Linked DNA regions of Homo sapiens. The protein of the gene in region 2 purifies or fractionates together with the protein of the main gene of each other region. This does not show direct contact. Each region holds a gene or a part of one and is shown on either strand. Other genes may lie near its edges.

Region 1 (5,204 bases), on a different chromosome or scaffold from region 2:
ATTAGCCAGGCATGGTGGCAGGCGCCTGTAATCCCAGCTACTTAGGAGGCTGAGGCAGGAGAATCACTTGAACCCGGGAGGAGGAGGTTGCGGTGAGCCGAGATCACACCACTGCACTCCAGCCTGGGTGACAGAGTGAGACTCCATCTCCCACCCCACTACCCACAAAAAAAAGAAAAAAAAAGTGTTTCTTAGACCACCAGCATTAGCATCACTTGGGAATTTGCTTGAAATGCAAATTCTCAGGCCCTACCCAGATCTGTAGTTTTCTGATTATGTATAATCAGAAAGTCTGGAGGCTAGGCCCAGCAATCTGTTTTACAATACCTCCAGTTGATTATAATGTATGTTAAAATTTGCGAACCACTGGTCTAGGGAAATTATTTCCTAACTAGTGTTTTATTTCTGCTTCTATTGAGTTTTAGCCTAAGTCTCAATCGTTGAGTGCAAAATTAGCATTATTGCATAGTGGCAAGGACATGGAGTCACACAGGAGCTAGTTGAATCCTGGGTCATCAAGAATTTCAGGGCCATGCATGGTGGCTCACACCTGTAATCCTAGCACTTTGGGAGGATCATTTGAGGTCAGGAATTGGAGTCCAGCCTCGCCAACATGATGAAACCCCATCTCTACTAAAAATATAAAAATTAGCCTGGCATGGTGATAGGCGCCTGTAGTCCCAGCTACCCAGGAGGCTGAGGCAGGGGAATCACTTGAACCCAAGAGGCAGAGGTTGCAGTGAACCGAAATCATGCCATTGCACTCTAGCCTGGACGACAGAGCAAGACTCTGTCTCAAAAAAAAAAAAAGTATTTCAGGCAAGTTCACCTCCCATAGTTTCCCATCTTTGAAATGATATTAATAACATCTATCTCCATGTAAGATTTTTTTTAGAATTAAGTAAGATAATATGTAAAGTGTCTAGTACATTGCTAGGATCCCAGGTGTTTGAGAAATTGCATCTAGCAATTTTTCTTGTTAGCAAAGAGCGCCCACCTCCATCTGTTCTAAACTCCTCTTGTTTCTTGAATGTATTTGCTGTCTTTTGTCTCTGGGGCTTTGTATTAACTGTTATCTTTTGGCATCCAACCTCCTACCCCTCTTTACCTCACTAATTTTATACATCCTTTAGATCCCTGCTATAGTTACTCCCCCTGGAGGGGGCTTTCCCTAACCCCCACCCCCCCAGTCTCTATAGCAGTCTGTATTTCTATCACTGCATTTATCACACCACTTTGGAATCATCTGTCTCCTGTATAAACTTCATTGAGGTAGTGTCTTGTTCACTGCCATATTCCTAGGGACAAGTAAAGTTCCCTGTATATTGTAGGAGCTAAGTGTTGAATGAATGAATGGTGGCTGCTATTATTGCTTCACCTTCACCCTCCAAGAGTAATCTCCCCATTCTGGTTTATAGTTTCTGTGCTCACTGCTTGTGATAATTGTAAGTATATATTGTTGAGAACAGTGCCTGTTTTCTCTTTCCCTGAAAACACATACTTTGACGTTGGCTGACGTAGTTCACTCAGCTGTTCCTAACCACTGATCCCTCTGTATCACAGGTATCTCGGGGGAGCTTTGTGCCTTGATGGATCAAGTTCATCATATGCAGCACTCAAAATGGCAGCATCCTTCGGACCTCACCACGCGGTGAGTGGGTGATTAGAAGAAGATGGAAAAGGGTAGAATGGCTGGGCGCGGTGGCTCACACCTGTAATCCCAGCACTTTGGGTGGCCAAGGTGGGTGGGTCGTTTGAGACCATCCTGGCTAACATGGTGAAACCCCATATCTACCAAAAATACAAAAATTAGCTGGGTGTGGTGGCAAGCATCTGTAGTCCCAGCCTCAGGAGGCTGAGGCAGGACAGTTGCTTGAATCTGGTGGCGAAGGTTGCAGTGAGCCAAGATGGTGCCACTGTACTCAAGCCTGGGCGGCAGAGCAAGACTCCGTCTAAAAAAAAAAAAAGAAAAGGCGGTGGGGGGGGGGCGCGTGAAATTTGGCTGCAGGAGGAATGTAGTGGGGAGTAGGGGTTGGAATTGTTTAATTCAAGAGGCAGGGGGAAAAAGTGATGCAGTATAATGGAATAAGAACTGGACTGAGGCTGAGCACAGTAGCTCACGCCTGTAATTCCAGCACTTTGGGAGGCCAAGGCAGGAGGATTGCTTGAGCCCAGGAGTTCGAGACCAGCCTGGCCAATGTGAGACCCCGTCGCTACAAAAAATACAAAAACTTAACTGGGCATGGTGGTGTGTGTCTGTAGTCCCTGAGAGTGCCTGAGAGAAAAGGATTGCTTGAAGCCCAGGAGCTTGAGGCTGTGATGAGCAATGATTGTGCCACTGCACTCCAGCCTGGGCAACAGGGCGAGACCCTGTCTCAAAAAACAAACAGACAAAACAAAAACTGGACTGAAATTCAGGAAACCTGAGTTCTAATACTAGCTTTGCAACTTGGTGTCAAAGGACCTTCCTAATTCTGAAATCTTCTGGAATTTTTTTTTTTTAAGACTCAAATTTAGTATTACAGTTTTCTGGATTCTTGATGCAGTGTGGCTGTACAAATTTATTCAGTTACTTTGATTCAGATACTCAAAAACCTTGGAATCATCTTTTACTTTTTTCTCTCTCACCCCATATTCAGTCTATCAGCAAATCCCATAGGTTCTGCATATACAGTTGTCCTTGGTATTCATGAGGGATTAGTTCCAGGACCCTCTCTGGATACCAAAATCCACAGATGCTCACGTTCCTTATATAAAATGCCATAGTGTTTGCATAACCTGTGCACATCCTTCCATATACTTTAAATCATCTCTAGATTACTTATGATAACTAATACAGTATAAATGCTATGCAAATAGTTGTTATACTGTATTGTTTAGGAAATAATGACAAGGAAAAATGTCTATACATGTTCGATACAGATGGAACCATTCATTTTTCTTCTTTGAATATTTTTGACCCATGGTTGGTTAAATCCATGGATGTAGAACCCATGGATATGGAGGGTCAGCTGTATATCCAAAGCCTAACTATTTCTCATCATTTGACCTGGATTGTTGCAAGTCTCCTAAATGGCCTCCCTGCTTCTGCCCTTGCCAGTGCACTGTTCACAACTCAGCAGCCAAAGAAAGAGATTCTTTTAAAGCATAAATCACATTTGCTCAATATTTCCCAGTGGCTTCCCATCTCACATCTTCCCATTCTCGTAATCCCCTACAAAGGCCTATATGCTTTGGCCTATGCTCACCGACCTCATCTCCTAATACTCTTCCTCTTGCTTCAGGGCCTTTACAGTCATATTCCCTCTGTAGTTGTCAAAATCATAGCATTTCTCAGAAGGAAAGGCAGTGTAGTGTAATTGTTAATAGATAAATTCTGGAGTCAGATGTGAATTCAAATCCAGTTCTGCTTACTCTACTCTATGACCTTGGGTAAATTATTAACCTGAGGCTCAATCAATTTCCTTACCTATACAAGGACTTAATGAAAATACTAGTAGGATTGTCACAGTATTAAGTGAGGAGAGGTATTTAAAGAATTCAGCAAGTACTTGCATATAGGGATAGATAAATGTCAGGTACTGTTACAGTTATTTTCAACCCTGGCGACTACTCATAATTACCTGTGGAGATATCTAAAAATACAGATGTTTGTATCCTGATTCCAGGTATTCTAAGTCATTAAGTCTGGGAGGAGGGAGAGGCCAAGAATCCATATCTGTATTTGTTTTTTCTTTTTCTTTTTTTAAATTTTAGAATGCGTATCTTCAGAAAGCTTCCTAGATTATTAGGAGCACTTTCAGAGTCAAAAATGGGATCAGATTATCTCAGAGCGTCTTGCTCAGAACTGCAGCCCAGCACATAACTAAATGAGACTTTTAAGAAATTTTACTGTGAGTCTGTGCTGTTAATTTTTCAGTCTCTAAACTCACATGATGACTTACCTTTCTGGGAATTTATTCTAATTTTAACTGCTGTGTCCTGAGCAACCTTGAGCTGTGTCAGACAATGAGGTCCTTTTGGAGGTACAGGTGTGATGCAAACAATAAAATATAGATCCTATCCTAAATTCTTCTGGAGGAATAAAATGGTTTTTTTTTTCTCCCCTACTTAAACATTATTCTACATTAGTTTTCCTTAGAATATTGTGTATATGGCACATATCACCATAATACCTATGGGAATTAGGTGGCTTTGGGAGTTGGAAAGAAATAGCACTTACGGTGTGGTGTTCATATAAATGAAATAGTATAAAATTTCTAAAATTGTGAGAATTGAAATATAAAATTAATATCTGATTTCCAAAAGTAAAGATCTTCTTAAAATTGTTGTGCTGGCCTTTTTTTGTGTACAAATAGCCATTCTAGTTGAAATAGCCTTCCTGTTTGTACTCTCCCTCTCTCGATAGAAACTACGCCCGCCGACAGAAACATCTGCAAAGATACAGTCTGACTCAGTGGGTTGACAGGAACATGCGAAGCCACCATCGGTTCCAGCGTCTCCCAGACTTCTCGTACAGTTAATTTGTGTCATCCCATCAGCAATGAAGGTCCCTATCCAGGGTCCTGCTTGGAGCAGCATTTCATGTTCTTTTGCTGTTTTGTGCTTTGCCGATTTTGGATTTTATTTTTCACAAAATTTTTATTTAAAAAACTCGTCACCTTTTGGAAATGCCCATTGCCGACTTGAATTTTTTTGTATGAAGTCCCTCCTGATTTTGTGTGTGTGTGTCTGTGTTTAAGCAAGCGTTCGGTTGGTATAGTTTTTTTTTGTTTTTTTAATTTAAATTGAAGGTAGCTGCCTCCTGAAAGCCAGCATTAAGCCAGAACACCCAGGTTCAAGCAAAAGACCCACCTCTCTGCAGAGGCAAAGTCTACTTTCTGGTACCTCAAAGAAATCATTGTTCAATCTTCCATAAGGAAGAGATTCTTTACCAGGCTGTGAGCCAGTGTTAGATAACTTGTGAATGGATATAAGTTACTTTTAACAACCCCTCTTACTTTTTTATTTGAATCCTCTGAATACCTGTCAGTATTTTAAAGTTGGCAATCCAGGACATTATAAGTAGGATGGAGCAGGAGAAGAATCCTATTGAAAGGACAAATTAAAATAGTAAATCCTCTCCTCTCCCTTCTGTAGGTACTAGCTGCCTTGATTTTTTTTTGTGGGTGGGGGGGATTTTTTCATTCCTTATTGAACTTATT
Region 2 (5,366 bases):
AAAAACTTTAATGGGCAATTATTACATAGCAAGCACTGTTCTAAATATGCACTGGTGATAAAGAGAAGCAAGAAACATGCTTTTGGCCGGGCTCAGTGGTTCACGCCTGTAATCCCAGTACTTTGGGAGGCCAAGGTGGATAGATTGCTTAAGGTCAGAAGTTCAAGACCAGCCTGGCCACCATGGTGAAACCTCACCTCTAGCAAAAAATACAAAAATTAGCCGGGCGTGGTGACAGGGGCCTGCAGTCTCAGCCACTCGGGAGGCTGAGGCAGGAGAATCCCTTGAACCCGGGAGGCGGAGGTTGCAGTGAGCCGAGTGCCCCTGCACTCCAGCCTGGGCAACAGAGGAAGACTCTGTCAAAAAAAAAAAAAATGCTTTCAGCCCTGAAGGAGCCTGGTTTAGCAGAAGAAACCTATACAAATGTCGCCTAAATATACAAATAGACCATACCTAAAAGACCCTAGCACTGGGCCCAGTGAGGCCCACAGGATTCTATTGGGGGAGAATCAGGCACAGTTCCAGAAAGAACCCTTGAACTACTAAGTCCTGAAGGATGCGCAAAATTCTTCAGTGAGATAAAGAGAGAAATGGCAGTATCCACAGAAACTGCAGACTGGTTAGGGCCTTGTAATTCTGCGCAGCTGGAACGCAAGATTTGGGTAGGAGAGCGGTAGATGAGGTTGGAGAGACAAACGGGCTGCCTTACAGATAGACGTTCCACGAGAAGTTCGTAGTTTTTCCTATTAGGGAAGCTATGGGAAAATCCTAATCTGGGTAACGATGTAACGGGTTTACACTTTAGAAAAATCCGTGGTTTAGGACTCTACAACTCCCATGGGCGGGCTGCCCTAACCCAGGGGTTCCCACTTCCGCTGTTCCGGGATTCACGGACGACTCGCCCCCTTTTCCCAGCCTTGGTCAGCACTGTTACCCCGCCCGCCGTGCGATCCCGCCCCCCTCGGAGCGCCCCTGTGGTCTGACTTCAGCAGCACTTTCCGGCAGGAGACTGGGCACTCGCTGTCACCCGCGAGCTGCCTCCCTCAGCGAGATCTGAGCATCTTTCCGGAGGCTAACAGACCTGGGCTTCGGGGTGACCACTGTGCTTGCCTCAGTTTCCTTTTCTGGAGCAGGGGAAGGCCCGGCTCCCTGCCCAAAGGCGGCTGTGCGCTAAGTGGCAGACGCTCGGGGAGAGCCGGCGCGGGGCGGACCCCAGCGCCAGTAGTGACAGGGGCGAACGCCGCCGGGAGACTCCAGCCGGCGGGCGAGCAGGGTAAGCCAGGCCGTGGGCGGGAGGGCGGGGCAGCTCACCGGTAAAAGGCAGAGTCCCCGAGTGGGTTCCAGTTCGCCGTGTAGCAGTCCATGGCTGGTGCAGACGGCAGCTGGGAAGCACCGAGGGGACACCCACCTAGAGCGGGCTCCAGGCCGGCACTTCCGCTTCCGCCCGTCCGGGTCACGTGGCGAGGCCGCCGCCGCGGCCATCACCACTGTGGGCAGCCTCACTTGGCTGCCGCCCCGAGACCCCAGCCCGTACCTGGGCTTCGCGCCCGCCAAGTGGGCCCAGCCCTGGCTCCTGCGCCCTGTGGCGGCCACCTCCATCGCCTTGCTTTCCCTTCGGGCACTGGGGGTCGCTCAGGGCGGGACATGGGTGAACGGAAGTGGAAGCTGTGAGCGTCGCAGCCCGAGGCGCCGAGGCCTGAGGCGCCGTCGGGGCCACAGCGACGCTCGCATGGAGAGCGCTGGGCGCTGGGCTGTGCACCGACGGCTAACCTGGACCCACGGTCTCTGCGGGGCGGGAGCTTTGCAGAACCGACTGGCCGACTGGGGCGCGGGAACATGAGGCTTGGCTAGGAGCCCGCTGCGGGCCAGGCGCGCGGTGCGCAGGCATACCCGGGTCGCGGGTGAACACCGCGGAGCCCCGGGACTTGGTAATTGGCGCGAGCGGGTGCGCGCATGCGCGGGACGGCGGCGGGCACGTGGCGAGGCGCAGGGCGGCGCCGCGCGGGAAGCTCCCCAGTGCCCTGGAGGCCTGCTGGCTGGACGACCCCCTGCCTCTGGTACCAAGTGTGACCAAGGCTGGCGCCACCATGGCTCTGCTGCCGTCACCTCCTCCCTTTAGCATTGAGCAGCCCCGGAGGGGCTAGCCCTGAGGCTGACCTGCCCAGAGTCCCCACCATCGCGCTGCTTAGTGGCCTCTCCCTGCAGCCTGTCGTTGCTGGTGGCGGCATGGTCTTCTGTCTGTCGAGCGAGGAGCCGCGCCGCCCGCTGCGAAGCGACATGGTCCACTTCCAGGCCTCGGAAGTCCAGCAGCTGCTACACAACAAGTTCGTGGTCATCTTGGGGGACTCCAGTGAGTGCCTCTTCTAGGGTGACGCTTCCAGTCCCACACCTTGCAGCCCGTTCAGTGTGTCTGGACCATTTGTTTCCATCTCACATCTCTTGTCTGTCTTCTGGTCTGTTCCGTCCAGTAGGTTTTCTCTTTTTATGTCCCACACATCTTCCACAGGAGTCCTGACAGGTGTAATAACCTGTGCACTTTTTAGCCCATCCTTGCTCAGCATTTCTCGCCCTGACAGCTCCCCATAATTTCCATCACGAAAGCGTTGCATTGTGTAGTGTGTCTCCTGGGTGACTTGGCCGACTTAATTTCTGCCAGGTGATCTTGGGTCACTGTATACTGCTGGCCAGGAGGCACACAGAACAGAGGCAATGCCAGGACTTTTTAACCTCATCTTTTCTCCTGCGTCTAAGTCAACCACAGAGCTGGTGTCGGGCACCTCAGCCCTGGGAAAATGGGGTCCTGGACTTGGAAGGAGCTGGGGCAGGCTGAGGTCTGCCTCAGCCTTGGGATCTCTGTCTCCTCCCAGTTCAGAGGGCTGTGTACAAGGACCTGGTGCTCTTGCTCCAGAAAGACTCACTGCTCACAGCTGCCCAGCTGAAAGCCAAGGTGAGGGAAGCTTGGTGGCCATGTCAGTGGTGGGTGGGCACAGACCCTGGCCTGGCAGGGTTCTCCTCCCTGGCATGGGTCTGACCAGTAGGGTGGGGGGGGTGGGTAGGGGGAGCTGAGCTTTGAACAGGACCAGCTGGTGGCTGGGGGCCAGCTGGGCGAGCTGCACAACGGGACACAGTATCGTGAGGTCCGCCAGTTCTGCTCGGGCTCTGGCCACCACCTTGTGCGCTTCTACTTCCTCACTCGTGTTTACTCCGAGTACCTTGAGGATGTTCTGGAAGAGCTGACATATGGACCTGCCCCGGACCTGGTGATCATCAACTCCTGCCTCTGGGATCTCTCCAGGTTGGGGCGAGGGAAAGGGGAATACTGGTTGGGGCTGGAAGTACGGCTGAGGCAGTCCACCCTTGTGCTCTTGCCCACCCTGTGTGTTATCCAACAGATATGGTCGCTGCTCAATGGAGAGCTACCGGGAGAACCTGGAGCGGGTGTTTGTGCGCATGGACCAAGTATTGCCAGACTCCTGCCTGCTGGTGTGGAACATGGCGATGCCCCTCGGGGAACGTATCACTGGGGGTTTCCTCCTGCCAGAGGCAAGTGACTGAGGCCCATCAGGACAAGAGATGGGATAGCAGACTGGTAGATAGGACACCCTGCTTTCAGACCCTGCTGCGTTCTGTGGCTCTTAGAGGCTGCACTTTCTCACTTAGCTCCAGCCCCTGGCAGGCTCCCTGCGGCGGGATGTGGTTGAAGGGAACTTCTACAGTGCTACGCTGGCCGGGGACCACTGCTTTGATGTCCTAGACCTCCACTTTCACTTCCGGCATGCAGTACAGCACCGTCATCGGGATGGTGTCCACTGGGACCAGCATGCACACCGCCACCTCTCACACCTGCTTCTGACCCATGTGGCTGACGCCTGGGGCGTGGAGCTGCCCAAGCGTGGCTATCCCCCTGGTGAGCCCTACCATAAGTGGGGGGGTAGTGATGCACTGGGGCCCTCAGAGGACAGGGCTCAGAAACAGAATGGGACACAGCCACTCAAGGGAAGTAGAGGTCCCTTGAAGGACTCCTGTGGCTTCTGCATGCACCTTCCTCAACCCCTGAGGAGGGTTAGATCATCGGAGCAATATTCTTGTCCAAGTTCCAGTTTTCTACAGTCTGGCTGTGTAGTCATTTCTGTGTGCTTGAAGGAGCTTGTACAAGTATTGACCACATAAGGCAGCATGTTGCAAGGGTCCTACCCAACAGATTAACAGGAAAGAAATGGGGCATGGGTGTGAGGAGTGGAAAGACAGGGAGGAAGGGCCATCCAGGCAGTGTGGCAGAAGCAAAGAAGCCCACAGCTGGGGGGTGGGGGTACAGTCAACTGGCAGGGTGTGGAACAGGGATGTTGCATCGGGAAGGCCAGCCTTATGGACTTGGGCTCAATGGACAGTGTTCCATAGGCTTCTTAGTTCAGCCTCAGAGTCCCACTGTGACTGGTGCAGCTTGGTGTAGCTCTCCTCGGGCCCCATCTCTGGGCCTTTGGTGGAGGCTTCTGAGGGCCCCACTCCCCCTTGTTTTGAGGCACTGCTCCCCATCACATCTCAACTGTAACACTCTGCTGCAGAACCTCTGTTTCCATGTCAACACCCTAGTCCCTGCATGCACACAAAGAGGGCACCATGGCTGATTGTCTCCATGGCTGCTTCTCCCCTGCATCGTGTCCTTAAAGGGCAAGTTTCCTGCTGCACTTGTTGACGACTCACCCCTTTCAGCCCCAGTGTCTAGCACAATTTCCCTGTACACAGTATCAACAGAATTGTATTTGTTGAATGGGAGGCACGAGTCATGTTAGAAGGCCGATTATGGCAGCACAAGAGGATGTGGGGGCACAGAGAGTCCAGGAATATCATAGAGACAGACCTGTAACACTTGGTAGCCAGGAGTTGGAGCATCAGGGAGGTGAATACAGATTTTGGTTAAACATCCCCATTTTCTTGTTTAGATGTAATAATTGATCCCCAGCAAATGATGGGATGCCCTGAAGGTTGTAAGGCTAGTTTTGATGGCTTAGGCCTTTGAAATCCAATTTGGAGCTACAGAAGTTAGGGCCATGAAAAGGGAGAGTTGATTTGGGGTGGAAGGATGAGTTGGTGAGTTTGGTCACAGCAGATTGATTTGAGGTTCTTTGGAAATACAGAGTAGATTTGCAGTCATTGGTACCCAGCAGAGAGATTAAAACTGAGGGCACAGTGGCAGCTGTGAGGGAGACAGAACGATGCTCATGCTTTGGATTGGCAGGAAAGAGGGGCTATGGCGGAAACAAAAGGAGATGAGGGCAGGGGCACTTTTAGGAAGGACTGAGGCTGCTGGCAGTGTCACATGACTGTTGAGAAGAAGGGAATTTGTTAGCAAGTGGTTACATTTAGTA

The links.
Region 1: the proteins of PCED1A (region 2) and S100PBP purify together in Homo sapiens (affinity purification with mass spectrometry; one large-scale study listed by BioGRID and IntAct). This does not show direct contact.

Annotation. Positions count from the first base shown.
Region 1 is NC_000001.11:32,851,516-32,856,719, forward strand, and holds part of S100PBP (S100P-binding protein), read left to right. Parts: intron 1-1,563; coding exon 1,564-1,651; intron 1,652-4,408; coding exon 4,409-4,523; 3' UTR 4,524-5,204.
Region 2 is NC_000020.11:2,836,773-2,842,138, reverse strand, and holds the start of PCED1A (PC-esterase domain-containing protein 1A), read left to right. Parts: upstream 1-1,483; 5' UTR 1,484-1,928; exon of another isoform or gene 1,929-2,205; 5' UTR 2,206-2,226; coding exon 2,227-2,350; intron 2,351-2,867; coding exon 2,868-2,947; intron 2,948-3,056; coding exon 3,057-3,295; intron 3,296-3,392; coding exon 3,393-3,543; intron 3,544-3,660; coding exon 3,661-3,907; intron 3,908-5,366. Other genes in the region: VPS16 (vacuolar protein sorting-associated protein 16 homolog), read right to left, coding at 1,312-1,364.